Linked DNA regions of Homo sapiens. The protein of the gene in region 3 purifies or fractionates together with the protein of the main gene of each other region. This does not show direct contact. Each region holds a gene or a part of one and is shown on either strand. Other genes may lie near its edges.

Region 1 (4,352 bases), on a different chromosome or scaffold from region 3:
TAATTGGCTACACAATATCCCAATACTGGGTAGCTGAGAGTGAGGGAAGGAACCTGGTTTTTCTTTTGCACTCTGTGGAACTTTGTGTTTTCCATTTTGATGAATATCTTTTTTCTTTTTACTCAGTTCAGTCTTTGACAACTTTTTCAGTCATGTTTGTGTATGTGTGGGTATATATCATATAAACAGTTGCACAGGTGTGCTAGTTAAATGTGTGAAGATCTTTGTGTTTCTCTGCCTGACTGCTGTATATCTATTTATGGTTGTGCCATTGCACAAGGGTGCCCAACTCAGGGGTAAGTGGGGACTGAAAACCAGCCTGGGCTCTGGGTGCCCTTTGTCTGATTCCTACAGAAGGGCCCTATGCACTTGTAATGGCCCTGTATAACACAGCATCTAGATTGAACAATGGCCATTACTTGGGTGCTAGGTAATACATATATGACTGATAGATGTTAAGGGCTGAGGAAGAAAACAGATTTAAACTTAGTGCTGAAAAAATGGTTACAAGATAGTCTTTAAGCCAGTTATTGTTGAGATCTCTCTCTCTTCCCCTGTCCCCTACCCCTTTCTCTTTCCTTCAGTGCACACACACACACACAAAGGTGTTTCATGAAGTCCCTCATCTACCACAGTCACTGTTATTTGAGAATATCTGCTTTGAAGTTTGATTGGTCACACTTTTTCACTTTGATATTCGAATGCTGAGTCGTCTGTGATCAAGCATATGCAAGCTTCAAATACATGCCAAAAAATATCTGGAATTTGTTTAAGCCTTTTATTTTTCAAAGTTTTGGTCTATTTTCTATTACCGTACTCATGATGGATAATCCTGGTGTTAGAGTACAGCTAGTTCTGTCTCCTTGTTTCCATTACTTCTTTATAGCAAGTGACTAGCCTAAGGATATACAGGGAGGTGGTGGTGGAATGGAATCTAGGTCTCCAAATGATGGTGCGCATTTCTTGAGTACTTTCCTGTGGCTAAGCACTTTAGATGCGTTCCTATTTAAACCTTACCACGATTCTCTGATAGACTTTGTTAATATCTTTCTTTTCAGATATGGGAACTCAGGCTTACAGAGTTTAAGTAAGAAGTGGAGCCAGAATTCAACCCCAGGCTTATCTGACTCTAAGAGCTGGGATTTTTATTTTAATTATTTATTTATTTAAAATATGGAATGCTTCATGAATTTGCATGTCATCCTTGTTCAGGGGTCACGCTAATCTTCTCTGTGTCATTCCAATTTTAGTAGATTGTTGTTCAAAGTGCTGCTGAAGCAAGCACCAGGAGCTGGGTTTTAATCATTCATCATATTGCATTGACTAGATAACATTCTGCAAATACGATGTTTTTTATGTTGTTGATTAATTTAAGTGTTAGTGATTGGTTGAGTGCTCTACCATGCATTCTGGGATTAGAAAGAAGGGTCCCTGTTTCTTGGTCCTACTTTGTGGTGAATAAACAATTGCAAATTATTAATGTCTCAAACTATATTTCTGAAGTGTAGAGAGACTTCCATAGAAGAACAAGATACTTCCATATGCCGTTCAAGCAAAAGTCTGGGGTTTCCTTTGAAGAACTTTTAGATTGATCCACAGCAGGACAATGTTTCTAGGCAGAACTGAGGAGGAGCCTTTCTTAGGCTCACTTCTCTTCAGGGCTCTGTTAACTCTTCCCACGCAATGGATAATCTACCCAAAATTTCTCAGGAAAGGGCCTGAAGAAGTTCATTCACACTAAGGTGTAAGTGAGTTTACACATCTTACTGTTAATTCTCTTTATACAAATGTTTACCAAGTTATCTAACACGCTTTGTTTTGGGCTCTGTCCTGGGGACTGGAGATAATGACTGAGAGAGAAAATGTCAGCTGTTTCAAAGTAGCTTAGGATCTGTTGTGGGATACAAATTAATAACAGACCAGAAGTAATAGAATATTTCCCTGAAGGATTTTCAATATAACAGGACTCAGTTTTACTATAAAAGGCTGAAATTCTAAGGTCATTTCAACAGGTGGTGGGGTTGGGGGTGGGGAAGGCATTTGACGCCTCTTTCTCTATGGTTATAAATCTCACTTGGTGAAATTAAGACTTTGGAAAGGGGAAGTAAGCCAACTCCAAGTTGGGCAGTAGAACCAATGAAAAATGCTGACGGCATCACAGTCCCATTATGGTGCCCAGCTGCCAATGACATGGCACTCAGAGGAGTGTCTCACACATACTGCTCTGTCTGAGGGAGCAAGCTAAGCTTGAGTTGTCTCTTTTTTTGTTGTTTTTTTTTTTTTTTTTTTTTTGAGACAGATTCTCACTCTGTCGCCCAGGCTGGAGTGCAGTGGCACCATCTCGGCTCACTGCAACCACTGCCTCCCGGATGCAAGCAATTCTGCCTCAGCCTTCCGAGTAGCTGGACTACCTGCGCTTGCCACCACACCTGGCTAATTTTTGTATTTTTAGTAGAGACAGGGTTTCACCATATTGGCCAGGCTGGTCTCAAACTCCTGACCTCGTGATCCACCTGCCTCGGCTTCCCAAAGTGCTGGGATTACAGGCATAAGCCACCGCGCCTGGCCAAGTTGTCTCTTTTTAGTTGAATTTTTACCTGTTCACATGTGTATTCTTCTTGCCTAGGTAGAGAGGAATCAGACACTCTGGGGAAGAATACAAAGAAATACAATTAAGTGGAACATTGTTTTTCTTTAGAAAGTGCAATTTTGGGCTGGGCGCAGTGGCTCATGCCTGTAATCCCAGCCCTTTGGGAGGCCAAGGCAGGTGGATCACCTGAGGTCAGGAGATTGAGACCAGCCTGGCCAAGATGGTGAAACCCCGTTTCTACTAAAAATACAAAAAATTAGCTGGGCATGGTGGCGGATGCGTGTAATCCCAGCTATTCGGGAGGCTGAGGCAGGAGAATTGCTTGAACCTGGGAGGCAGAGGTTGTAGTGAGCCAAGATGGCGCCACTGTACTCCAGCATGGGCAACAAGAGTGAAACTCCGTCTCAAAAAAAAAAAAAAGAAAAGAAAAAAAGAAAAAAGAAAGAGCAACTTTGTTTTAACTCTGCTAGATACTGGAAAACCCATGGAACTAATGAAGAGCCTAGGGCTTTTTATTTGTTTTGAGATTGTGCCATTTCACTCCAGCCTGGGCAACAAGAGAGAAACTTTGTCTCACACACAAAAAAAGTGTAAATCAAAACATTAAAAATTAAGTAGTTTGGAAGTAGATTATCAAAAAGGTCCTGAAAGGGAGGTTCTTTGGCTATAATCTTTAACGCAACTCTACACTCCCTGTATGGAGACAGATTTCTTTTTAGATGGTTACAGTCACAAAGTAGGGTTTTCAGTAGCATTTAGGGATGAATGAATCTTGCAGCACCTCTCCATGTATCTTGCTAGCCCCTCTGAAACTTCAGGTCAGTTAGTGCTTCCTCAGAAATTGTTCCCCCCACACCAAGTTTTCACATTTACAGTTATACTGATATCCACATTGTACTGTTGTATGTGACACCTAGATTATAGGAAATTTTGGCTATAGTTCAGAAATTAACTGCTATGTTTTGCCTTTACGCTAAAGAGATTTTGTTTTGTTTAGTAGGAAAAGCGGCCTGCATAACTAGCCATTTCTGTATCTTAGAAAAATTTTTAGTAACAGTCCTTTGTTGAGCTAGTTACAGTGAACAAATAATCTGGTTCATGGTCCTATACATCTTTCACTATAAGAAAAATACCTGATTGTTATTTACACTGGAAGAGAGGTAGAAAAGCTAAGAGAACTCACTTATGGCAATAAACCAATCTAAACTACCTGCTAAAATAAGTGAGAAGATTATAAAAATGGTTCTAGGATTTTGGAATAATAGTGAGTATGGTATGGGCGTTTCATACTTCATTTCCAGAATGTTTCTGGATTAAGTGCGAGACTGAATAGCATATATAGTGAATTCTAATTAAATACAACAATGTGAGATTCCTGTGGTGTTTTTTCATGGAATTAAAAATTAATAATTTCAATAAAATTAACTGCTGAAAGAACCCAATTAGCCAAAATGAAAAGCATAACACATTTTTTCAGGAGCGATTTTGAGGTGTCTTTTAGAATAAATTGTACTCTGCTTTTGATGTGATTTGCTACATCTTTTTGTTGCAGTTCCTTGAGGCTCAGCCCCTGGCCATATACTTGCTTCACTTTTCCTGCTTTCTTCCATCCACTGTCTTGGGGCTGTTATTTCCAAATCTCATCACTGTGTTCAAGACTTATTTACTATTTCTGGACAGTTCCATTTGGGTACACAGGTACATCATACTAAACTAACATGAACTCATTTTTCAGCTACACCATACAACCTTCCCTTACTAC
Region 2 (4,352 bases), on a different chromosome or scaffold from region 3:
CAAGGGGGAGATTCTGTCTCCAAAAAAAAGGAGGTATATATACATGTGCTTGTGCCTGCAGGTATGTGTTTGTGTGTTCTAGGTTTTGACCACGAAAAAAGAACTGATTTACTTGTGGCATTTTAATACATGCCAAAACAGTACAAGATACCTGAGAAACTCTGCAACCTGTGCTCTTCTTCTTCATAAATAACTGAGTCCACATAATGGTGATACTGGGATCTGAGAGAATTGGTCTTAGGCCTTATGCTGCAAGTACTGCTCATCACTACTAAGAGACCCCCTTTTAATGCGGAGGTGCCATTTTTATAATGCATTCCAGAAAGTAATCAATTGATGCGTGACTAGGAAAATTTAGAGGAGTTTTTAATCACATGACTTCACCTGACGAGATTTCACAACTATAAAACCTCCCTTTTTTCAAAAAATTATTAAGAAAATAAACCAGGCCCCAGTCCAGGGAAGTAGCTTCTCTAGAGCAGGCTTTCTTATAATTACGTGGACTAATTGCCTATTTCCCTGTCTAGTGGGGACTGGATATGCACATTTTGTAGAGATATTGGAAAGCCAGAAGTTGAATATGATTGTGATAATTTGCAACATAGTAAGAAGGGGAAAACTGCGCAGGGGTTAAGCCCCGTGGACCAAAGGGTAAGTGTCAAATAAGTTGATTTGTCACTGGGATTCAGTAGTTGTCTGCCTATATATACACCTTTTTTTTTCCTGTGTAGCATACACAAAACCTGATAACATTTAATTTTTAATCCTGTCATCTGATGGTATATTGATGATTTCTGAAGTCTTTTTTTCCTCTAACCCTGAACTACAGACCCTTCTATCCAGATTCCTCAAACTTAACATGTCCCAACTAAAATCTTAATTTCTAATCCTCTCCCTCCAAGCACAAAACCAAGCAAATAACGACATAAAAAACTGTATTCCTCCCCCAGTATTCCCCTTAATTGAATGATACCACCATTCATTTCTGTTGCTCAGGTTAGAAACCTATTAGAAATGAAATAATAATAACTATAATATGATTTTCTTACCTTACATCATAATTTCTCATCTGGACTATTGTAGTGATCTCTTAACTGCTCTCCCCGCTTCTGCTCTTGACCTTTATAGTTTGTTTTCTGTATTAAACAGTGTTCTTTTTAAAAAAGTAAACAAGTCTATCATTTCCTTGCTTAAAATCCTCTAATAGCTTCTCATCATATTAAAAATGGAAACTCTCTCCTTACTTTACTCAGATTTTTACCAATCTGGCCTGTAGTCTGATTGCCAAAGACAGACTCTTTTGCATTGTCGTGTGGTCATTAGAGTTAAGTTTGGCTCTACTCTGGTGTATATACTGGTAAAAACCCTCATCCACTATCTGTGAAGACAAGATACGTGTTTAGGGTATACAAACTTGTATTAAAAGAAGTTTAGATAAATAGAAGACTGTGAATGTAAAATGCATTTCAGTTTACTCATGATTGGGTAAAAAAATATTTTTGGAGTTAGACTGAGAAGGCCATTTTCATTTTGAACCTGACTGGAATCATTTGAAGAAAGGGGATGATAACTTTCAACATTTGTCTTGCCTGTCTAAGGAATTACCATGAGGAGCAACAGTGATAATTTATTTACTTATTTATTTATTACCAAGTAATTTATAAATTTTTGCACAAAGTGTTAGATGTTGCTTTTGTGACTCCCTTCCATAAATTACCTTAGTTATCTTCCATTCTTACTTAAAGTAGAACAAAAGATAGTCTGAAAACAAAATGAGAAGCAAGGGAATTTTCTTTGGGTGTTTATGTTTAGTTGAGTATCTAGTAAACAGGGGGCTTGTGTTCAGTTTGTTGTAATCAAACTTTGTTGTGATATAGTTCTCATTCTCGAGAATGTTTTATTAGGAGAAAAATATTTCATGTGCTTTCCTTTCCTTGTTTGGGCCAGAAATGTGAACGTCTTCTGCTTTACCTCTATTGCCATGAATTAAGTATTGAATTCCAGGAGCCTGTTCCTGCTTCGGTGAGTTGCCTACCTTAGTAGCTCGGTGGGGAAGTCTCATAATACTTAAGAGTATGGGCTCTGGCGGCCGGGCGCGGTGGCTCACGCCTGTAATCCCAGCACTTTGGGAGGCCGAGGCAGGCGGATCACGAGGTCAGGAAATAGAGACCACGGTGAAACCCCGTGTCTACTAAAAATACAAAAAACTAGCCGGGCACGGTGGCGGGCACCTGTAGTCCCAGCTACTCCGGAGGCTGAGGCAGGAGAATGGCATGAACCCGGGAGGCGGAGCTTGCAGTGAGCCGAGATCGCGCCACTGCACTCCAGCCTGGGCGACAGAGCGAGACTCCGTCTCAAAAAAAAAAAGAAAAAAAAAAAAAAGAGTATGGCCTTAGACTAAGTTGTATTACACCTCAGCCTTCTGGAATAAGCTCTTCAACCTCTCTAAGACTCAAGTTTTCTGACACGATTTTTTACCTCATTGGGTTGTTCTGAGGATTATATAAAATAACCTATGTAAAATATTTAGCATAGTCTATAGTCATTGAGTTTTGTAAGGAATAAAGGCTCTAAAATGCTGCAATAAAAGGAAGATTAGAGGTGTTTGGTGCCTAATAAGTGGGGTAAGAATATTCTACACACATTTTATTGCTAGCCATCAGTTGTTGAATAGTACATTATTACATACCAGGCCTGTTAGAGAATATTAAATGGTAGTTGACTTGTTTACTGGGTAGCCTGAGAAATGAATTTTAAATCACAAAAGGTATAGACAGAAGGAAGATGTTTTGTACAAGCAGTAATCATCTGTTTCTGGAAAATTTGTCTCATCTTTAAGTGCAGGGATTTTAAAGTAGAAAATGACTTTCAAATGTTTTCTTTTTATGGACTATTAAAGTAGCTTCTTGGCCGGGCATGGTGGCTCATGCCTGTAATCCCATCATTTTGGGAGGCCTGGCAGGCAGATCACTTGAGTTCAGGAGTTCAAGACCAGCCTGGCCAACATGGTGAAACCCCCTCTCTACTGAAAATATAAAAATTAGCCGGGCGTGGTAGTGCATGCCTGTAATCCCAACTGCTAGGGAGGCTGAGGCAGGATAATTGCCAGGGGATGGAGGTGGCAATGAGCCACAGTTGGCGCCACTGCACCACTGCACTCCAGCCTGGGCGACAGAGCAAGACTCCATCTCAAAAATCAATTAGTCAATCAGTCAATAAAATAGCTTCTCTAACTTTACTTTTATCCCAAGGGTAGAAATTTTTCGCCAGAGTTGGGGTCAGAATTCCCTAGCGTGAACACTAAATGGTTAATAAAGTTAGTAAATTTTTCTTATGTTCTTAGTCTTACTTCCTCTGTTACTAAGTCAAGACTTCGTGATGTAAATGATATTCCCTGTTATGTTTTCCAAAAGACATCATATTCTAATTGTAACATTAATATATTTTGTAAATTTTTTTCTTTAAAAAAAAAAGAAAAACTCCTAAGGAGTCATAAAATTCTGGTAAGTCAAATGTTGCCTCAAGGCTACTGGTTGGTTACCCTTGCTAATTGCTTTCTTTCCAAATCTTATTATTAAAAGTAGGACTTTGGGGACTTGGACTAACCATGAAGATTGGCACATATGCCACATAAGATTTGGTTTTCATGAAGATGTAAAGTACATACGTCTATACTCAAAATTTGCAAGCAGCTGGCTCTATAATAATTTTTTTCCCTAAAATTAATATGCTATGCATTTTCAAATTAAACAGTTTGGCATTTTTGGAGAATTCTTATTTGCCATTATGTGCTTATTTTAGATACCAAACTACTATAAAATTATAAAGAAACCAATGGATTTATCCACCGTGAAAAAGAAGCTTCAGAAAAAACATTCCCAACACTACCAAATCCCGGATGACTTTGTGGCCGATGTCCGTTTGATCTTCAAGAACTGTGAAAGGTTTAATGAAGTATGTTAACTTCCAACCTATAGAGTCTTGATTTGTTAGTTTTTGTTTGTTTCCTTGTTTTATTTTTCTGCTGACTTTAATTTTATTAAAATTTTTTTTTCTGCTAAAGTCCTGTCAAAAGTAACATCTGATTGTATTAACAGCTCCAGTGAAGAAAATTTATTGTGTATAATTTGGAGTATATACTTAAATATAATAAATTAAGAATATTATCAAATATCCTTTTCTAAATGAGTTGAGGATTGGCATAAGTATGGAAAGTACTGTCAGTAGTTACGTATATTTTGTGGAATATGATTATAAACAGCTTACGTTTTGGGTACTATTAGGAAAGTTATCTGTACCCATGTCCTTGCATTTTATTATTGACAACATGAATGTAGAACCTTAAAATAACA
Region 3 (4,352 bases):
GAACACCCCACACTCCCCTCCTCCTGCCCCCATCTCAAGTTCACTTCCCCATTGAACAAACCCAGGGTACAGCCTGAGAGGTCAGAGGTCAGCCTCCTAGGCACAGAGTGGGGTATAGAACACTAGACAGGGGCCAGTGGGACAAGCAAAAGCGTCCAGCACTGTAGGGGCTCCCTGTGGGGGTGCCAGCAGGGGCAAGAATGCAGCCAGAGCCAGGAGGGATGGGAGCCCCAAGGGAGAAGGCTGTGGGGTCCCTCCCTCCCCCACCAAGCCCACCAGGCAGCATGTGGCACCTCACTGCACAGACGTGGCCTGTGATGACAGCCTTGTGTGACAACGGCCTCACTACCACTCTGCTCCCTTTGGCCCACGGACCAGTGGCAGAAACACCCAATACCCTCTACACCCCCGTGATGATGTGGCATGGGCGGGAATAGGGAGGTGGGAGGCTTCTGGAGTGGGGTGGTCCCAGCAGAAGGGTCCTGAGGTGTGATTCCAGCAGGCCCACGGGGATGACAGCTGTCACTTTCTTTCTGACCCCTGTGTGCTTGCTTCCCCCACCCCCAACAGGGGTTGATCTGAGCAACATTGTAAAGACGGCACCTAAAGTCTCTGCAGACGGATCCCAGGAGCCCACACATGACATCCTGCAGGTAGGAGTGGGCATCCCACACAGCAGGTCCTGCGTCACCTCTGTCTGGGGGCACCTCTTCCCTGTTTCCTGGATGGCAGAATACAGGCTCTGAAGGTCATGCCCTCCCCAGCATGCATGGGCAAGCTTGAGTTTGCAGCCAGGTCTCCCTGAGTCCATGTCCGAGGGCGGCATGCCTTCCAATGCAGGGGATCCCAGGCTCCTGTGGTGGCATGTATGCTGAAATCAGGTAGATGGCTTGGTTGTCCCTGCTGCTGGGATCCCAGAGTCAGGGACACCATAGAGGTGCCCCTCTGGCTTCCCAGAGACAGATGGTCAGGACTCATAGGACGAGAGAGTGGGCTCACAGTAAGGCTGTCACTTACTGAGCACTGACTGTTTACCAGCACTTTCCAGCCAGTCCGTTAGCACTGAAGCTCACCAGTGAAGTAGGTGGTGTCATTCCTGTCTTAGTGATGGGGAAACAGGCCAGGAGCTGGCACTTAACCTCTCCAGAGACCGAAAGAAGGAAGGTAAAAGAACTTCAATGCTTTCCGTAAGGTCGCCCATCAAACTTTGTAATACAGCAGAAGGCTCCGGTGTTTGAGAACCGACTGTGGGCCTGGTTCTGTGCAGGTACTTTTTTCCTGTCTTCTTGGTCACTGTCCAAACAACACCTGCAAGGCTGGGATTTCCCCATTGTAGAGATGGGGACATTGAGATCCAAAGAGAAGAGAAGTCATTGACATGGGAGCAGGAGGTGCAGTGATAGGAGAGGAAGTTGGAAGAGACGGCTCTGGGTGTAAACCCGGCTTGCCTAAGGCATGACACTTACTTCTCCCTACCTCGGGGTCCTGCCCTCTCCTGCCTTGAGGAGGTCTTGTGAAAATTGCCTCGTTGTTGTTAGTTTGCTTTTTGCCTTTCTTGCCTAATAAGGATGAATTTATTTTATTATATATATATTTATTTATCTATTGAGACAGAGTCTCACTCTGTTGCCCAGGCTGGTGTGCACTGGCGTGATCTCAGCTCACTGCAACTTCCACCTCCCAGATTCAAGTGATTCTCCTGCCTCAGCCTCCCGAGTAACTGGGATTACAGACACACGCCACCACACCTGACTAATTTTTTTGTGTTTGTAGTAGAGACGAAGTTTCACTATGTTGGCCAGGCTGGTCTCGAACTCCTGACCTCAGGTTATCTGCCCGCGTTGGCCTCCCAAAGTGCCGGGATTACAGGCATGGGCCACAGTGCCCAGCCTGGATGAATTTATTTTAAAATGAGTTTGTCTTCTGGCTATCTTTGCATTGGGTGATTCATCTTTTTCCTACTGATTTGTAGATGAAGTTTATATAGGAAGGATCTCAATAACAATATCGTCTATATTGTCTAGCAGTTACTGCTTAAGTACTTCTTAAGTGCTCAGCATTATGCTAAATTCTTTTTTTTTTTGAGACAAGAGTCTCACTCTGTTGCCCAGGCTGGAGTACACTGGCGCAGTCTTGGCTCACTGCAACCTCTGCCTCTTGGGTTCAAGCAATTCTCCTGCCTCAGCCTCACAAGTAGCTGGGATTACAGGTGCACACCACCATGCCCAGCTAATTTTTTTTTTTTTTTGAGACAGAGTCTCGCTCTGTCACCCAGGCTGGAGTGCAGTGGCGTGATCTTGGCTCACTGCAAGCTCTGCCTCCTGGGCTCACGCCATTCTCCTGCCTCAGCCTCCCGAGTAGCTGGGACTACAGGCGCCCGCCACCATGCCTGGCTAATTTTTTGTATTTTTAGTAGAGACGAGGTTTCACCATGTTAGCCAGGATGGTCTCCATCTCCTGACCTCGTGATCCGTCTGCCTCGGACTCTCAAAGTGCTGGGATTACAGGCGTGAGCCACTATGCCCGGCCTATTATGCTAAATTCTTAAAATATGTTCTCTTAATCTGTGCTCAGCCCATCTTGCTGGTGAGGTATCTGAGGCTTCCCAAGGATCAGTGACCACGCCCCTGCACCCCGAAAGGTCAGCTGGTGAGAGGCAGAGCTGGTACCCGGATCCAGGAAGCAAAGCACTGAAAGGCCGTTCTACCAGCAGTACAGGAAACTCCGTGTTTGTTTATAACATTCGCTCCTTTTTTTTTCTTAACTGTTCTTTTATTTATTCATTTATTTATTGAGACAGAGTCTCGCTCTGTCGCCCAGGCTGGAGTGCAGTGGCGTGATCTTGGCTCACTGCAAGCTCCACCTCCCAGGTTCATGCCATTCTCCTGCCTCAGCCTCTGGAGTAGCTGAGACTACAGGCGCCTGCCATGACGCCCGGCTAATTTTTTGTATTTTTTAGTAGAGATGGGGTTTCACTGTGTTAGCCAGGATGATCTCGATCTCCTGACCTTGTGATCCGCCTGCCTCGGCCTCCCAAAGTGCTGGGATTACAGGTGTGAGCCACCACGCCCAGCCTATTTATTTATTTTTTGAGATGGAGTCTCACTCTGTTGGCCAGGCTGGAGTGTAGTGGCCCTTCCTCAGCTCACTGCAGCTTCCTTCTCCCAGGTTCATGCAATTTTCCTGCCTCAGCCTCCCGAGTAGCTGGGATTACAGGCGTGCACCACCACGCCCAGCGGATTTTTGTATTTTTAGTAGAGATGGGATTTCACCACATTGGACAGGCTGGTCTTGAACTCCTGACCTCAAGTGATCTGCCTGCCTCGGCCTCCCAAAGTGTTGGGGTTATAGGCATGAGCCACTATGCCCAGCCTATTTTTTGTTTTGTAGAGATGGGATCTTGCTATATTGCCCAGGATGATCTTGAACACCTGCCCTCAAGTGACCCTCCCACTTTGCCCTGCCAACATGCCAGGATTACAGGTGTGAGCCAACATGCTCACCTGTTTTTTTTTTTTTTTCTTTTTCTATTTCTTTTTTTTTTTTTTTTGACACAAACTCTCACTCTGTCACCCATGCTAGAGTGCAATGGCAGGATCTCGGCTCATTGCAACCTCCACCTCCCAGGTTCAAGTGATGCTCCTGTCTCAGCCTCCTGAGTAGCTGGGATTACAGGTACCTGCCACCATGCCTGGCTAATTTTAAATTTTATTTTTCATTAAGGAAGAGTGGAAATACATTCTTAGCATAAAGGATTCAAGCAATACTCAAGCATTTATAGTAAAATCTGAAAGTCCCTGCCTTGTCCCTCCCACCAGACACTGGGGTTTGCATCTCAGCGGTCAGTTCGCAACTGAACCAACCCCCTTCTCAAATGCCCTGCAGCATAATTGACCTTTGTGCATCTTGGCTTAGATGTGTAAAAAATGCTTATCTGTTGAGGGAGAAAAAAATTCAACATTGTGATGGTCGTTGAAATTAATCTGTTTGTGTCATAAGATTTGTTGCAAACAGGCTTGTAGAAACAGAAGGAAAATAATGTCTGGAGACTGTCCAGGGAAAAACTGAGCCAGCCAGGCCACATTTATATGTGGGAAGTTGTAGAATGAAAGGCATTAGTCACAGAGACTGAATGACTCCAGGAGTCAATGGGTAAAGCCCCCCTCCATGAGCAAGGTGGTGAGCGCCACAGAAAATTGTCATAGGTAGAACACAGCTGGCTCTGCCACCTGCATTTTAGCAACCATCTGTCAATGAAAATACTCTATAAAATATTTCAAGAGATTTATTCGGAACCAAATATGAGTGACCAAAGGCCCATGACACAGCCTCGGGAGCTCCTGAGAACATGT
Region 4 (4,352 bases), on a different chromosome or scaffold from region 3:
TGTGGTCTCACTGACTTCAGGAGTGAAGCCACAGACCTTCACAGTCAGTGTTACAGCTCATAAAGTTAGTGCAGACCCAAAGAGTGAGCAGCAGCAAGATTTATTGCAAAGAATGAAAGAGCAAAGCTTCCACAGCATGGAAGGGGACCCGAGCAGGTTGCCGCTGCTGGCTCCAGTGGCCTGCTTTTATTCCCTTATTTGGCCCCACCCACATCCTGCTGATTGGTCCATTTTACAGAGAGCTGATTAGTCCATTTTAGAGTGCTGATTGCTCTGTTTTACAGAGTGCTGATTGGTCTGTTTTACAGAGTGCTAATTGGTCGGTTTTTACAGAGTGCTGATTGGTGCGTTTACAAACCTTTAGCTAGACACAGAGCGCTGATTGGTGCATTTACAATCCTTTAGCTAGACAGAAAAGTTCTCCAAGTCTGCTACCCAGTTAGCTAGTCACAGAGCACTGATTGGTGCATTTACAATCCTTTAGCTAGACTGAAAAGTTCTCCAAGTCCCCTACCCGATTAGCTAGACACAGAGCACTGATTGGTGTGTTTACAAACCTTTAGCTAGACACAGAGCCCTGATTGGTGCATTTACAATCCTTTAGACAGAGTAGTTCTCCAAGTCCCCACCCGACCCAGAAGCACAGCCAGCTTCACCTCTCAATCCCCCCCCTCTAAACAGGACACCCCAACTGCTGTTGGGAATTTGGCCAATGACTGCTGTAGCTACTTCCTGCTGGATAGGGGTGAAGAAGGGGCCCTGCAATTGTAGTGTCCTCCAGAGGGGAACTCTTTAGGCCAGTGAAAGGGCCAGCAGGTTGGTCCAGGGGTCCTGGTAGAAGTTTAGTTGAGCTCATTTGGAGTTCCATTTGTAAGACCATCTGTAGCTTGATGGTCTCAATTCTAGAGGAAACAAATTTGAAAAGGAGGTTAAAAATACAGGGCCCGAAGGCAAGTAATAGCAAGATGGCTGCCACAGGACCTAGAAAGGGGAGAAGCCATGTTGTCCAACTCCAGAGGTTGGTGTAAGAGTTTGAAAGGCGTCTGATTTCAGAAGCCTTTTCCTATAAATGTTGGGTGGCATCTCATACTATCCCTGACTGGTTAGTGTAAAAACAACACTCTTCCCCTAAGAAGGTGCAGAGTCCTCCTTTCTCAGCAGTGAGGAGGTCTAGGCCTCGGTGGTTTTGGAGAGTCATTGCTGCCAAAGAGTCTATTTGGAATTGTAGTTACTATCCTTACTGGATAGATTTTGTTATTTCTTGCAAACTCTCTTGAGAAATCCTTTGAGAGTGTGGTAGTAGGATAATGAAGTAGGTAAACTGGCTATTCCAGTTCCTGTAGCAGTGGCCATTTCTAACCCTATAGGTAGGGGTATTAGTTGTATGGCTCTGCACTGACGGACTTGAGCTTTGAGGGGTACTGATAGGGTCTGATTTCCACAAGATTAGAAGTTAGAATAATATATGTTTACACTGTTAACTTTTAGCAAACTTTACTTTTGTTGAAAACCTTGTAAGTTTGGGATTTCAATTATTCTTTGCTATTAATAAGACCTCGTTCAGTCCATATTAACTTAGAATTGATATAGATGGCTCCTTCCTGATTCTGTAAGTACTTTAAGGTTTGGCTGAGTGCAAACAGCTCGCACATTTGAGCAAACCAATTATTAGGCAGTTTTCCTAACTCTGCTTCTACAGTTCCCTTATCATTTACTGAATACCCCTTGTGTCTTTTTTCCTTAATCACCCAGGAGGAACCATCTATGGTCCTGTCCTGAAGGGAGTTCCTCCTAGATCTGGTCGGACCTTTGTATGGTAGTTAGTTAAGATTTAGATCCCCTGTTAGGAAACCTGCTGGGTTAAGGATTTTTGATAGGAAGGCTATGGGTTGTCAGTGGCCTCAGTGCTTTTGGGCTACGCCCTTGTTTACACTGACAACAAGGTGGTATTGGAGTGTTACAGAGTTACAGAGAAGGCCTTCAATTATCAGTTATAGGTTTTAACTTTACTGTGGCTTTTAAAGGAATAGGGTGTAGGGTCCAGCCCCACAGGGTCGGTGGGTTTTTTCCCCGTGTGCGGAGACGAGAGAGTGTAGAAATAAAGACACAAGACAGAGATAAAAGAAAAGACAAGAGGTAGAGGAGTAGAGTCTTCTGTAAACTCCCACGGGGAAAGGGAGACTCCCTTTCCTGGTCTGCTAAGTAGCGGGTGTTTTTCCTTGACACTGATGCTACCGCTAGATCACGGGACGCTGGTGTTACCACTAGACCAAGGAGCCCTCTGGTGGCCCTGTCCGAGCATAACAGAAGCCTCAACTCTTGTCTTCTGGTCACTTCTCACTATGTCCCCTCAGCTCCTATCCCTGTATGGCCTGGTTTTTCCTAGGTTATGATTGTAGAGTGAAGATTATTATAATATTGGAATAAAGAGTAATTGCTACAAACTAATGATTAATGATATTCATATATAATCATCTCTATGATCTATATTTAGTATAACTTCTTATTTTATATATTTTATACTGGAACAGCTCGTGCCCTCAGTCTCTTGCCTCGGCACCTGGGTGGCTTGCCGCCCACAATAGGGTACACTGTTTTTTCTTTACTACTTCTATCTCTCTTTCTCTTTGATGACTTCTTTGTCTCTCTGAGTCCCTCTTTGTCTGTCTCTTCCTCTCTCTCTTTGCCTTTCTATGTCTCTCTCTCTGACTCTCTCTTTGTCTCTGTCTCTTTGACTTTGTCTCTTTCTTTCTCTCTGACTCCTTTGTCTCTCACTTCCTCTCTCTGTGTCTCTCTCTGATTTTCTGTTTCTTTCTCTCTTTCCTTTCTGCTGGTCTTTCCCTTCCTCTGCCAGCCACTTATGCTGCTGTTCTCCCCTCTCCTTCCCGTTTTGATGGCTTTGGCAGTGTAAGACTGCCACCTCCTTGGGTTTTTGCACTGCATGCAATAACTCCATGGTTTCCTTGTGGTATTTAATGGGGGTTCCCCCAGAGGTTAGAAACTCCCTTTCTTTCCATATTGCAGCACAGGCATGTAGGATTAGATAAGCATACTTGCTACCTGTATACACATTTATTCTTTTTCCCTTTCCCAGTTCTAAGGCTCAGGTAAGTGCCACTAGTTCTCCTGACTGGGTGCTGGTCCTTGGGGGAGGAGGCTTACTTTCAAGTACGGTTACGTCACTAACTATGGCATAACCTGCCCTTCGTATCCCATTCTCCACAAATGAACTTCTGTTGGTATATAGATTAAGGTCAGGATTAGCTAAGGGGACTTATAAGAGGTCATCTCAGGCAGCATAAGTCTGGACTATAATTTGTTGGCAGTCATGCTCGATTGGTTCCCCATCCTCTGGGAGAAAAGTGGCAGGGTTGAGGGCCACGCATGTATGTATTTGAAGCACCGGTCCCTCAAGGAGTAGTGCCTGGTATCTAAGTAGGTGGTTGTCTGATAGCCATAAACTCCCTTTGGCACTTACTATGCCATTTACATCATGAGTAGTCCAGACAGTGAGATCCTTTCCTTGTATTATTTTGATAGCCTCTGACACTAGGATGGGTACTGCTGCAACTACCCTTAAACAGTGAGGCCAGCCTTTTGCTACTACATCAATTTCCTTACCTAGGTGTGCCACCAGTTGTCAGACACGAGTCTGAGTAAGGACTCCAAGAGCTATCCCTGCTCTCTCTGTGATGTATAAAGAGAAGTTTTGTCCTGTGGGAAGGCTTAAAGCTGGAGCTTGTACTAGGGCCTGCTTTAAGGTTTTGAAGGCTGTTTCTGCCTCTGGTTCCCATTCTACTAGATGAGTATTTGCCCTCTGGGTCTCCTTGATTAGAGTATAGAGGGGCCTGGCTATCTTGCTCTATCTGGGGATCCATAGTTGGCAAAAGCGGTGATTTGAAGGAACCCCCACAACTGTTTTAAAGTCTTAGGGTGAGGATAAGCCAGTATAGGCTGTATTCGTTCCTTGCCAAGGGTCCTGGTCCCTCTGGCTAAGATTAGGCCTAGATATTTGACCTGCTGTAGGCAAAGCTGGGCCTTTGACCTAGATGCCTTGTACCCTTGATTAGCTAGAAAATTCAAGAGATCTAGAGTAGCCTGCTGGCATGAGGCTTCCGAACTGGTAGCCAAAAGTAAATCATCCACATACTGAAGGACCAGAGTGCCTGGACTTGAGAAGTGGCCTAGATCTTGGGCCAGTGCCTGACCAAACAGATGAGGGCTATCCCTAAACCCTTGGGGCAAGACGGTCCATATAAGTTGGGATGTGTGGTCTGTGGGATCCTCAAAGGCAAAGAGAAACTGGGAGTCATGGGAGTCATAGTGCAGGGGAATACAGAAGAAGGCATCCT
Region 5 (3,480 bases), on a different chromosome or scaffold from region 3:
TGAGACGGAGTTTCACTCGTTACCCAGGCTGGAGTGCCATAATGGCATGATCTCAGCTCACCACAACCTCCACCTCCCGGGTTCAAGCAATTCTCCTGCCTCAGCCTCCCGAGTAGCTGGGATTACAGGTGTGCAGCACCACACCCAGCTAATTTTGTATTTTTAGTAGAGACGGGGTTTCTCCATGTTGGTCAGGCTGGTCTCGAACTCCTGACCTCAGGTGATCTGCCCGCCTCGGCCTCCCAAAGTGCTGGGATTACAGGCATGAGCCACCGCACCCGGCCGATATTCAGTATTTCTAAAACACTACTAGAGTTCGTAAGAGTGACCAAGTCCAAGGTAAAAATAGAAAAATCCAGCACTTGTTCATCAGCAATAGCCAATTAGAAAATGTAACGGGAGGGAAAAAAACTGCCACCATAATTGCAGCAAAAATAAAAGTTATCTCAGAATAATCCTAATAAGCACTGTGAGTGTCATCAGGCACATGGTGTGTTCTTATAGTCCCAGCTACTCAGGAGGCTGAAGGTACGAGGACAGCCTGAACCCAGGAGTTCAAGACCAGTCTAGGCAACATAGTAAGACCCCATCTCTAAACAACTAAATAAATAATTTTTTAAAAAAGAAATGTGAGTGATATATATGGAAGAGGCACAAAACTGCTCAGAGGTATAAAAAGATAATCTGAATATGAGACGTAATGTGCTATTGGATGGGAAAACCAGATGTTGTAATGAAGTCACTTCTCCCTAAATACAACCTGAACAGGATTTTACTTGGAATTTTACAAAACGAGACTAAAGAATACATTTTGGTGAAATAAATTATCAGCAATATAAAATGATCTAACAAGAAAACTGAAAGGAGGAACTAGCCTTACCTGACGTATAATGTCATATAAGGAAACAAAAGTCAAGAGTAGGTCCTGGGAGGAGGGGCTAGAACTGGGTGTTAGTGTTTTATGGGGCAGTTTCCCCGTGGGATGATGAAAAAGTTCTGGAGACAGATTGTGGTGATGGTTTGCAAAACAATGTGATTGTACTTAATGCCTCTAAATGGTATGCTGAAAAATTACTAAAACTGTAAGTTTTATGTTATGTATATCTTACCACAATAATTTTTAAAAGTAGATACCTGGATAAGAACAGAGTAGATAGCAATGGATGGAACCTGTTCTATATGAGCATGTATTTTGAAAAAGGGAAAATTTAACCAGTAAGTGTTTGAAAGGTTGAATAGCTGACTGTCAGTCTAGAAAAACAAAATTAGACCACTCTCAAAATACATGAACATAAATCTGATGGCTTAAATAATATTTTAAAAATATTCTTAAATTTAGAGTAAAATGGAATTTTATTTTAGAAAAATAAAATGGAATTAAATATTTATCAAATATTCAAGCCAAGGATAAATCACAGAAGAAAATTATAGCATATTTTATTGCATGAAGTTAGAAACTTGAAAGTGAAACAAAGCAAAATACTACCTTAAGAAAATGTGTATTCGATATCACAGAGTTAATATTATTCAGTGAAGACTACACATAAATAAATAAGGAACACATTAGATTTTAGTATGTAAATGGACAAAATACATGAAGAGACAATTTTTTTTTTTTTTTGAGACGGAGTTTTACTCTGTCACCCAGGCTGGAGTGCAGTGGTGCCATCTCGGCTCACTGCAACCTCCACCTCCCCAGTTCAAGCGATTCTCCTGCCTCAGCCACCCAAGTAGCTGGGACTACAGGTGTGCACCACCACGCCTAGCTAATTTTTTGTATTTTTAGTAGAGATGGGGTTTCACCCTGTTAGCCAGCATGGTCTTGATCTCCTGACCTTGTATCCGCCCGCCTTGGCCTCCCAAAGTGCTGGGATTACAAGCATGAGCCACTGCACCTGGCCGACAATTTGTATATGTGAAAGCTAGAGAGAGTGAAATTCAGTAAATATATTTTTTAAAGTTCAGCCTTAATTGTAATTAAAGATACGCAAATTAAAACAGCAACAGTGCATCTTTTTGTCGGTTAATTAGCCAAAAAAAGAGCAACTTACATGATATCATGTGCTGATATTCACAGATTATGGATGACACTACATTAACAGCTATTTATAAAACTATTTGTCATTATGTATTAAGGTCCTAAAACACGTTGGGAGAGGAAAGAGCTCTTCCTTGAAGTAGAACTCCATGTGAGAAATTGCAATGGACTTTGGTAAATCACCATTTTATTTTATTTATTTTTTATTTTATTTTTTTTTGAGACTGAGTCTCATTCTGTTGTCCAGGCTGGAGTGCAGTATCGCGATCTTGGCTCACTGCAACCTCCACCTCCCAGGTTCAAGTGAGTAGCTGGGATTCCAGGTATGCACCACCACACCTGGCTAATTTTTTTTATTTTTAGTAGAGACAGGGTTTCACCATGTTGGTCAGGCTGGTCTCGAACTCCTGACCTCAGGTGATCCACCCGCCTCGGCCTCCTGAAGTGCTGAGATTACAGGCGTGAGCCACCATGCCCGGCCTGGTAAATCACCATTTTATAGCCATCGTCATAAACATTGGATTGTGAAATCTTTAGCAGAAGGGGAAAGTGAGGTTTGATAAGATGCAGGATATTTTAATCATATTAAAAAGTCTCTTCACAGATTGTGGCAAATGTCAAAAAATAGTGAATTGGGTAAAGAGAAAACAGGAGTTCTTGCAGCTTTTCTCTAAGTTTTGAATTATTTCAAGATACATTTTAAATGTTCCCTGTTAACTACAGTCGATTTCAGGGAATTTTTTTTTTTTTTTTTTTTTTTGAGACAGAGTCTCTCTCTGTCGCCCAGGTTGGAGTGCAGTGGCATGATCTCCGCTCACTGCAAGCTCAATGCAAGCTCCGCCTCCCAGGTTCACGCCATTCTCCCGCCTCAGCCTCCCAAGTAGCTGGGACTACAGGCGCCTGCCACCACGCCTGGCTAATTTTTGGTATTCTTAGTAGAGACGGGGTTTCACCGTGTTAGCCAGGATGGTCTCCATCTCCTGACCTCGTGATCCGCCCACCTCAGCCTCCCAAAGTGCTGGGATTACAGGCGGAAGCCACCGCGCACGGCCGGGAATATTATTTTTAAAGCCAAAATCCAACCTGGGCACAGTGGCTCACGCCTGTAATCCCAGCACTTTGGGAGGCTGAGGCGGGCCGATCACTTGAGGCCAGGAGTTTGAGACCAGCCTGACCAACATGGCGAAACCCCATCTCTACTAAAAAATATGAAAATTAGCTGGATGTGGTGGTGCTTGCCTGTAATCCCACCTACTCAGGAGGCTGAGACAGGAGAATCGCTTGAACCTGGGAGACATAGCTTGCAGTGAGCTGAGATTGCACCACTGTACTCCAGCACTTTGGGAGGCCAAGGAGGGAGGGTCACTTGAGGTGAGGAGTTCCACATCAGCGTGGCCAACATGGTGAAACCCCGTCTCTACTAAAAATATGAAAATTAGCCA
Region 6 (3,558 bases), on a different chromosome or scaffold from region 3:
ATTGCTGTTTTTGAAATAAATTGCCAAACTGATTATTATGGTTGGGGTATGGAGAGGAGCGTAATAAATGAGAGGCACTAACTTTGCAAGTTACAATTTAATATTTAAGATCTTCCTGTTATGTAACTTAAAATAAGATTAGTTGTCAGTATTCTTTCTGTTTTTTAAAGTATTATAGCTTTTGAGGAAATCATTGAGCCATACAGACTTCATGAAGATGATAAAGAGCAAGATATTGCAGATAAAATGAAAGAAGATGAACCATGGCGAATAACAGATAATGAGCTTGAACTTTATAAGACCAAGGTATTCTCTTCTGCTTCCTTTTCATTAATCTTTTATATAATAAAAGACATGAAAACCAAGAACTTTAATTTGATATAGGAGGGTCAGTTGTATAAATGAACTCTACTTTAAAATAGATTTATTTGAGGTTAGTGGAAAGCATTTTTAAAAAAAATAAAAATAGAGAACAGATATTTTTATTACACGAAAATTCATTTCAGTTTCTTTTTGTCTCCTTATAGTTTTATGAACCATGCTAAATTCTTATTTCCACATGGTCTAGGAATGACTGTCCTGTTTCATTTCAGACATACCGGCAGATCAGGTTAAATGAGTTATTAAAGGAACATTCAAGCACAGCTAATATTATTGTCATGTAAGTAATATCTTTATAAAGATTTTCTTGCTAATTTATGATAATATGCTTTGAATTAATTTCTATTCCAAGTACATATCTATATAACACCCATATTGACTTAGTGGTTATAAGGAGGAAAAAACAAACTTGTAAAAATATACTATGCTTTAAGCATATGGAGAAAGACAAAAACTTTAACCTTATGCTTATATGAATCCCAAGTAATCTTTTTATCATAGTAGGTTATATTGGAACCTTTTGTTTACCCTTCTTCTCACCTTTTTAAAATTCCTTATCTTTGTAAACACTACAGCATAGCCGTTAAGCACGTGTGGATAGGAGGGTCCTACGTTAAAATTTGGGCCCCGGACAGCTTCCTCTTGAAAATAATTCAAAAAATGTTATTTGGCAGATTAAACTTGAATAGTGATTCCTATCTGGATCCCCATTCTTATGTTTCCAACACGCAAATTTTACATACAGACACATTGTCCTTGAGTTAAATATGATACTAAATGCCTACTTTGGCTCTTCCTCTACTGAACTAGGTTAGCTATTCTTTGAACCCACATTTTCTGAGTTCTGGAACATGTGTCCTTAGATAGGAAAGCTCAGGCCTCTCCCCCACAAAAAAAGCCAAGTAATGAAAAAAACTACCAAAAGATTGTTAGTTTAACAACATTCAATAAATCAAAAAGTTTCAAGTTTTGCTGATGATAATCAAATACCTGTAAATGGAAAAGACACCAAAACATAGAAATTTAGAGAAAAACTATACAGCAATTGGTCACTGCTGCCACCATCCATAAATAGAAATTAAAACTAAGAGAAGATAAAAATTGCATTTATCCATATATAGCTTCTGTTTTCTAAATTTTGATAGTAAACATACCTTTCACCTAAAAGAATTCTATTCTTATTAAAGAAGGGGAAACCTAGGATTTAGTGTTAGATATCAGAGGTACTGTGGTTTATAGAAATACTTACTGTTCTTATGAACAAATTTTGAAAAATCTTTTGTTGAAAGATTATAGTCTTTTATATATGCATATATGATGGTGGTACCATAAGATTATAATACCATATGTTAAGCTGGGCATGGTGGTGTGCACCTGTAGTCTCAGCTACTTGGGAGACTGAGGTGGGAGGATTGCTTGAGATCTGGAGTTTTGGAGTTTTGAGTCCAGCCTGGGCAATGTATTAAGACCCCATCTCTCTTAAAAAAATATATATATATTTTTACTGTATCTTTTCTGTATTTAGATATGCAAATGCTTACCATCGTGTTACAGTTGCCTATAGTATTCACTACAGTAACGTACTATACAGGTTTGTAGCTTAGGAGCAACAGGCTGTGTCATATAGCCTAGATGTGTAGTAGGCTATACCATCTAGGTTTGTGTAAGTACTCCTGTGATGTTTTCACGAGGGCAAAATTGCCTGACAGTAAGTTCTGAGAAATGCGTCTCCATCGCTAAGCAACACAACTGTGGTTGTTATTCTATTTGCAGAATTCTCCTGCACTCAGAAATATTCTGTAATTATAGTAATTTACAGTAACTGTTATTGTAATCTACTTTATAATTTTTGCTACATTTTATTCTGTAAATGCATTGCTCAGGGTTTTTTTTTTTTCTTTTTCTCTTTTTGATACCAGGAGTCTCCCAGTTGCACGAAAAGGTGCTGTGTCTAGTGCTCTCTACATGGCATGGTTAGAAGCTCTATCTAAGGACCTACCACCAATCCTCCTAGTTCGTGGGAATCATCAGAGTGTCCTTACCTTCTATTCATAAATGTTCTATACAGTGGACAGCCCTCCAGAATGGTACTTCAGTGCCTAGTGTAGTAACTGAAATCTTCAATGACACATTAACATCACAATGGCGAATGGTGACTTTTCTTTCACGATTTCATTAATTTGAAAGCACACAGGAAAGTTGCTCCATTGATAACGTGTATGGAGACTTCGGTTTTAGTCAATTCCATATCTCAATCTTAATGGTGATTCTTCTCTGTTGAACTGAAGTTTGTGAGAGTAGTTTTCCTTTGCTACTTGAATAGCAATAAAAGCGTGTTAACTTTTTGATTGATGAAAGAAGTACAAAAAGCCTTTAGCCTTGAGGTGCCTTCTGAAATTAACCAAATTTCATCCATATATCCTCTTTTATAAACTTATAGAATGTCAAACTTTGCCTTCAACTGTTTTTATTTCTAGTCTCTTCCACTTTAAAACAAAATGAACACTGCTTGTCTTCTTCCATTGACCATTTAGTGTTGAGTACTGTATGTGTTTTGTTAATTCTATAAAGGTATCTGTTAGATATTAAAGGTGAGAATTAGGGCAGGTTAATCAAAAATGGGGAAGGGGAAATGGTAACCAAAAAGTAACCCCATGGTAAGGTTTATATGAGTATATGTGAATATAGAGCTAGGAAAAAAAGCCCCCCCAAATACCTTTTTAACCCCTCTGATTGGCTATTATTACTATATTTATTATTATTTATTGAAACCTTAGGGAAGATTGAAGATTCATCCCATACTTCTATATACCATGCTTAAAAATCACGTCATTCTTTAAACAAAAATACTCAAGATCATTTATATTTATTTGGAGAGAAAACTGTCCTAATTTAGAATTTCCCTCAAATCTGAGGGACTTTTAAGAAATGCTAACAGATTTTTCTGGAGGAAATTTAGACAAAACAATGTCATTTAGTAGAATATTTCAGTATTTAAGTGGAATTTCAGTATACTGTACTATCCTTTATAAGTCATTAAAATAATGTTTCATCAAATGGTTAAATGGACCACTGGTTTCTTAGAGAAATGTTTTTAGGCTTAATTCATTCAATTGTCAAGTACACTTAGTCTTAATACACTCAGGTTTGAACAGATTATTCTGAATATTAAAATTT
Region 7 (4,352 bases), on a different chromosome or scaffold from region 3:
GGAATCTGCCCCTTGACTTCATTTCTTGCTGGAGCAAACAGAAGACTATTGACTCGACACTAAGTAGGGGAGAAATCACAGTGTGACCCTTTCTCCTCCTGTGACCCCCTTGGAATTTCAGCTAATATGGGTTGCAGTCACTGGAGAGTTGACTGTCCCCAAGCTCTGGGCTAAGTCTTCGTTCCTCAGAGTGTTGTATTGAGCCACCTTCCAAAGCCAAAAGCCTTATTATTTTAATCTTTGCAGATTTCAAAGGGACTTAAGGTATATAATTAATATTTAGAATCATATCGAGTAACAGGGGAGTCCAGCTCCATCATGCCCCACCCTGGCCAGTCAGTGGTCCTGCCCTCTGCCTGCCCCGCAGGTGTTCATGCACTTCCTCTTTCCATTTGGGTGGCCAGTGGCCTGTCTGATTCTGGATGGAAGGAGCACCTTTGCCAGTTGATTTCCATTTACCTTTTTCGAAAGATCCAAAGCTGGATCTCTACTCTACCCTGTGGATGGCCGGTTCTTCCTCCTGGAACTAAGAGCTGTGAAGAGCCGGTGAAGTCTTAGGGGGTGTGTGAGTGTGGGGTGTGGAGGCTGGGGAGGAAAATCAACCTGTGAAAATATCCAGGCTTGTGCAGAGATCATTTATTCACGAAGAGTTAATGAATGATTAACTAGAATAAATGATACTTACATTCCATCAGCCTCTTTTATTTTTCCCATGTGAAAACAAAGCCCTTCTTGGTTTGATTGCTTCTAAACGGAACTCAGAGGGTTCTGAGGATTTTAGGGACTTTGGTTATTTAGCTCAACTGTACCCCTAGCATGCACACAGAGACGTGGACAAGGAGCCCCCTAGAGCTGAAGGCTGGCCCTCTGCCTCTGCTAGGAGACATCTAATCACAAAGCCTTGGTAACTCACATTCCTCCAGGCATCCATTTCCATTTTTGGAGGAATGAAGTTTGTGCATTGGGAAGTGACTTGAGTTTAACTGAAATTCCAAACAAAAAGGCAGTGGTTCCTCTCATTTTTAAAGGTTTTGCTTGACAGCCATGAGGCACTGCATACCAATCAGTTCAGAAGTCAGGATCATAAGCAAATACCATTACAGGACAGTGACTGTAACACTCTGAGGATGGGGGTCATCTTACTGTGCACATGGTCATTAGTTGCACACACTATGTGGTTCTCAGAACTGACTGTTTGATACACTTTAATGCAGCTTAACCCAGTTTGTAGGGCTTTTCCCTCACTTTTGTAATTCTTAATATTTATACCTAGTATCTTTGTTAGTGGTGTTTTTTTTCCTGATATAAATATATTTAGTCCTTTTATATGCTGTCCTGGGAAAATAAAGACCTGGATTCTGGCCTTTTGACAGTCTCCTCTCTGGGTTTTCCTTGCTCTTTATCCCCAGCATATGTGAAGTATTTGTGCCACAAATGTACCAGCCTCTACTGCACAGAGCCAAGGCACACAGCACAGCCATCAGGACACAGAACCAGATCTCTACCCTGTTGATGGCTGGCTCTTCCTCCTGGGGCCAAGAGCTGTGAAGAGCCTGTGCCCCCACATTGGGAAGTCTTGGGGGAGTGTGAGTGTTGGGAGCGGGTGATTGTGGGGGAAAATCAACCTGTGAAAGGATCCGGGCTTGTGCAGAGTTTGTTTATTCACATATTCTCAAAGAGTGAGTAAGCGTCCGCTACGGGCAGTCGCTGAGTCTTCCGGGCACTTGGGATAGAGAAGCGGACAAAGGCCCTGCTGTGTTGCCCCTGTCATCTAGGGTTGGCCGTGCTTGGGCTGTGCTGGGGAGTCATCACACACTTCCTTCCCTGTCCCCGCTTCTTGGGAATAGGCCTTCAGCTGCCCAGACCCTGGCATGCCTTCGTTATTTGAGTTCAAAGACTGACCTCCCACTGGCTGTTCATGTTAGGAGGCGTCTGCACAGAGAACGCACACTCGGGGTCTGGAAGGCTGAATGTGTACACTTATGTGTTGGTGAGGCACTCCCCCTGCGTGGGCCCTGGCATTTGCCCCCAGTGTCTGAGGCTAAGCTAGGGTGGCGGAGGCTCTGTCAAAAGCTGAAAGAAGAGGGTCTGTGGGCAGAACTGGTTTGCCCTGTAGAGGAGAGGGAAGCCAGACCCTTGACTTAGGGGCGCAGAGTCGGTGTACCTATGGGTGGGAAGAAGACAGTTATCCAGGGATACTTACGGAAGGACATAAATCACCTGGAGTTTTGGGGAGATATGGATATGATCTCCGTTTAAAATATTTTATCCCATTTTAGCCTGTATCACCCAATGTGTCCTGATTTTTTGTTCTGAAAATATGCTCCCAGTAGAAGCAGTCAGACATGGTGCACACCTGTAGTCCCAGCTGCTCTGGACACCCAAGGCAGGAGCATCCCTTGAGCCCAGGAGTTTGCGTCCAGCCTGGCCAACATACTGGGACCCCATCTCTTAAAACAAACCAACAAACAAACAAAAGTTACCCAATCGAAGCTGGACACAGATGAGACATTTGCTAGCACAGGAATAACTGCGGGTAGAGGGTGGGATATAAGGAAAGGTGGCTTCCCCAAGTCATTTGTGCAGGCCAGTGAACAAAACATACTGGATCCAAGGTCAAATTCGTAGTGATTGTTCTATAGGGCTCTTTCTGTCCTGTTCTGTTTGGTGGGGGTGGGGAGTGATTTCAGAGTTCTTGTTATAATTAGTCACATGGATTACATTGGCGTTTTTCTTCATTGATTCTGCTGATCCATGCCCTCGAGCTCTCTGGTAGGCCTGTTGGGGAGGAGGGGAGCTCCTGTATTGGCATTGACTGGCAGATTATGGCTTGGCGTTCTTTTCCCAGATTACCTCATTTAATCCTTACAACAGCCCTGCAAGGGAAGTATCATTTTGCTTTTACAAATGAGAAAACTGAGGCTCAAAAAGGCTGAGTCATCTTCCCATGGCCACACAGCTAATCATTGTTCAGGGCTGAGTCTGTGCCTGATTCTGCTGAGACCATCAAGCCCTCATCCACTCCTACTCATCTCATCTGTCTGAGTCCATTGGGGGGCCTCACCGGCATTCCCTGTTGTCTGTTTGGCTGGGGAGGGGAGTGTCTGGCAGCCTCAGCGGGAAAGATGAGGGAGCAATCTGATCAAGACGGTCAGCGCATTATATTGAGAGTGTCAAAGCATCAGGCTTGTTTAGAGCCAGGAGTTGGGATTATTCCTAAGTTTTGGTTCCCCCACGGTCCTGGGTGGATATTTGCATGGGGTATGTCTGGGTTTGAATTTCAGACTTATTCTCGATTTTTTATTTCAGGATCTAACTTGGCAAGATGAGCACTCTGCCCCTTTCTCCTGGGAAACAAAGGTAAGTTGGATTAAATTTAGATCTATTTGTTCTTTTAAAAAGAACTGAGTAGTTGTATATTTTTCTTTCAGCATTTGATGGACTCAGAAGACAGCCCCCTGACTGCCAGGCTGCAGGGGATGTGTCCATTGTTGGTAGAAAAGGAGGGGATGGGAGGAGCATGGTGAGGAATTAGGAAACTATTGTGTGTGGTTTGGTGATAGTGAGTTCAAAGTAGTAGTGCTTTCTGCCAGGGTCCAATGACGCCCCATGATGCCCATTGTCTAGGACTCCCGGCCAGCTTGGTTAAGGGGGCCAGCCCTCTTGGGGGCCCTGTCTCTGCTCATACCTCTGGTTCCCAGCACTTAGCACCTTGATGGGAGATGCCCCATAAGACAAAGCTTTGAGCAAATGGGAGGTGACGAGCTGATTGATAGACATAGACATCCATTTAGCTAATTCATCCCAACGTGGATCACTAATTCTGTCTCCCAGTCATTCTTCTTCTCATCATTATCATCATCATCACCAGAGTTGCTTAAGAGCATCAAGCTTCACTGATTTTAATTCATTTTCCCCATCTCCTAAGTTGCCCCAGTAGAAGTACATTCATAAGCAAAATGACTAAAAGACAGGTGTCTTTAACCCAAGGGACAGAAATAAAAGACCAAGATTTTCTGAATTCTGGAACATTTGGTGATGTGTGTTGGAGGGTTCTTTACGTCATGAGAGTGTGTTACAGACAGAGACGGTGGTGAGCCTGGAATAGGGCTCGGACTGCTGGGCAGATCAGGGTTTTTAAATACTGATACCTCAAGGCACTTGTTTTTTGGTTTTTCACTTGTCCACATCATTGCTGATCAGAGCCCTCATCCCAGCAGGAGACCTATGAGGAGGGTGGGCCAGAGTGGTTCATGAAGGACCCTGAGAGGCCCTCATGTTGGCGACTGTGTCTTAAAATGAAATATTGCCCAAGGGTTCAGATGGACACAAGGACAGCTGACACTGTTCTT

The links.
Region 1: the proteins of ARMC6 (region 3) and SLC16A10 purify together in Homo sapiens (affinity purification with mass spectrometry; 2 studies listed by BioGRID and IntAct, with this or other methods). This does not show direct contact.
Region 2: the proteins of ARMC6 (region 3) and TRIM33 purify together in Homo sapiens (co-immunoprecipitation; one large-scale study listed by IntAct). This does not show direct contact.
Region 4: the proteins of ARMC6 (region 3) and GALNT11 purify together in Homo sapiens (affinity purification with mass spectrometry; 2 studies listed by BioGRID and IntAct, with this or other methods). This does not show direct contact.
Region 5: the proteins of ARMC6 (region 3) and SLC20A2 purify together in Homo sapiens (affinity purification with mass spectrometry; 2 studies listed by BioGRID and IntAct, with this or other methods). This does not show direct contact.
Region 6: the proteins of ARMC6 (region 3) and SLC12A2 purify together in Homo sapiens (co-immunoprecipitation; one large-scale study listed by IntAct). This does not show direct contact.
Region 7: the proteins of ARMC6 (region 3) and C1orf198 purify together in Homo sapiens (affinity purification with mass spectrometry; 2 studies listed by BioGRID and IntAct, with this or other methods). This does not show direct contact.

What each region holds. Positions count from the first base shown.
Region 1 is NC_000006.12:111,090,046-111,094,397, forward strand, and holds part of SLC16A10 (monocarboxylate transporter 10), read left to right. Parts: intron 1-4,352. UniProt on the Homo sapiens protein: Sodium- and proton-independent thyroid hormones and aromatic acids transporter.
Region 2 is NC_000001.11:114,399,059-114,403,410, reverse strand, and holds part of TRIM33 (E3 ubiquitin-protein ligase TRIM33), read left to right. Parts: intron 1-527; coding exon 528-651; intron 652-1,947; coding exon 1,948-2,022; intron 2,023-3,801; coding exon 3,802-3,954; intron 3,955-4,352. UniProt on the Homo sapiens protein: Acts as an E3 ubiquitin-protein ligase. Promotes SMAD4 ubiquitination, nuclear exclusion and degradation via the ubiquitin proteasome pathway. According to PubMed:16751102, does not promote a decrease in the level of endogenous SMAD4.
Region 3 is NC_000019.10:19,043,422-19,047,773, forward strand, and holds part of ARMC6 (armadillo repeat-containing protein 6), read left to right. Parts: intron 1-570; coding exon 571-653; intron 654-4,352.
Region 4 is NC_000007.14:152,028,015-152,032,366, forward strand, and holds part of GALNT11 (polypeptide N-acetylgalactosaminyltransferase 11), read left to right. Parts: intron 1-4,352. UniProt on the Homo sapiens protein: Polypeptide N-acetylgalactosaminyltransferase that catalyzes the initiation of protein O-linked glycosylation and is involved in left/right asymmetry by mediating O-glycosylation of NOTCH1.
Region 5 is NC_000008.11:42,418,327-42,421,806, reverse strand, and holds part of SLC20A2 (sodium-dependent phosphate transporter 2), read left to right. Parts: intron 1-3,480. UniProt on the Homo sapiens protein: Sodium-phosphate symporter which preferentially transports the monovalent form of phosphate with a stoichiometry of two sodium ions per phosphate ion.
Region 6 is NC_000005.10:128,184,196-128,187,753, forward strand, and holds part of SLC12A2 (solute carrier family 12 member 2), read left to right. Parts: intron 1-170; coding exon 171-306; intron 307-527; exon of another isoform or gene 528-593; coding exon 594-661; intron 662-2,300; coding exon 2,301-2,436; 3' UTR 2,437-3,558. UniProt on the Homo sapiens protein: Cation-chloride cotransporter which mediates the electroneutral transport of chloride, potassium and/or sodium ions across the membrane. Plays a vital role in the regulation of ionic balance and cell volume.
Region 7 is NC_000001.11:230,854,676-230,859,027, reverse strand, and holds part of C1orf198 (uncharacterized protein C1orf198), read left to right. Parts: intron 1-3,020; exon of another isoform or gene 3,021-3,150; intron 3,151-3,309; coding exon 3,310-3,360; intron 3,361-4,352.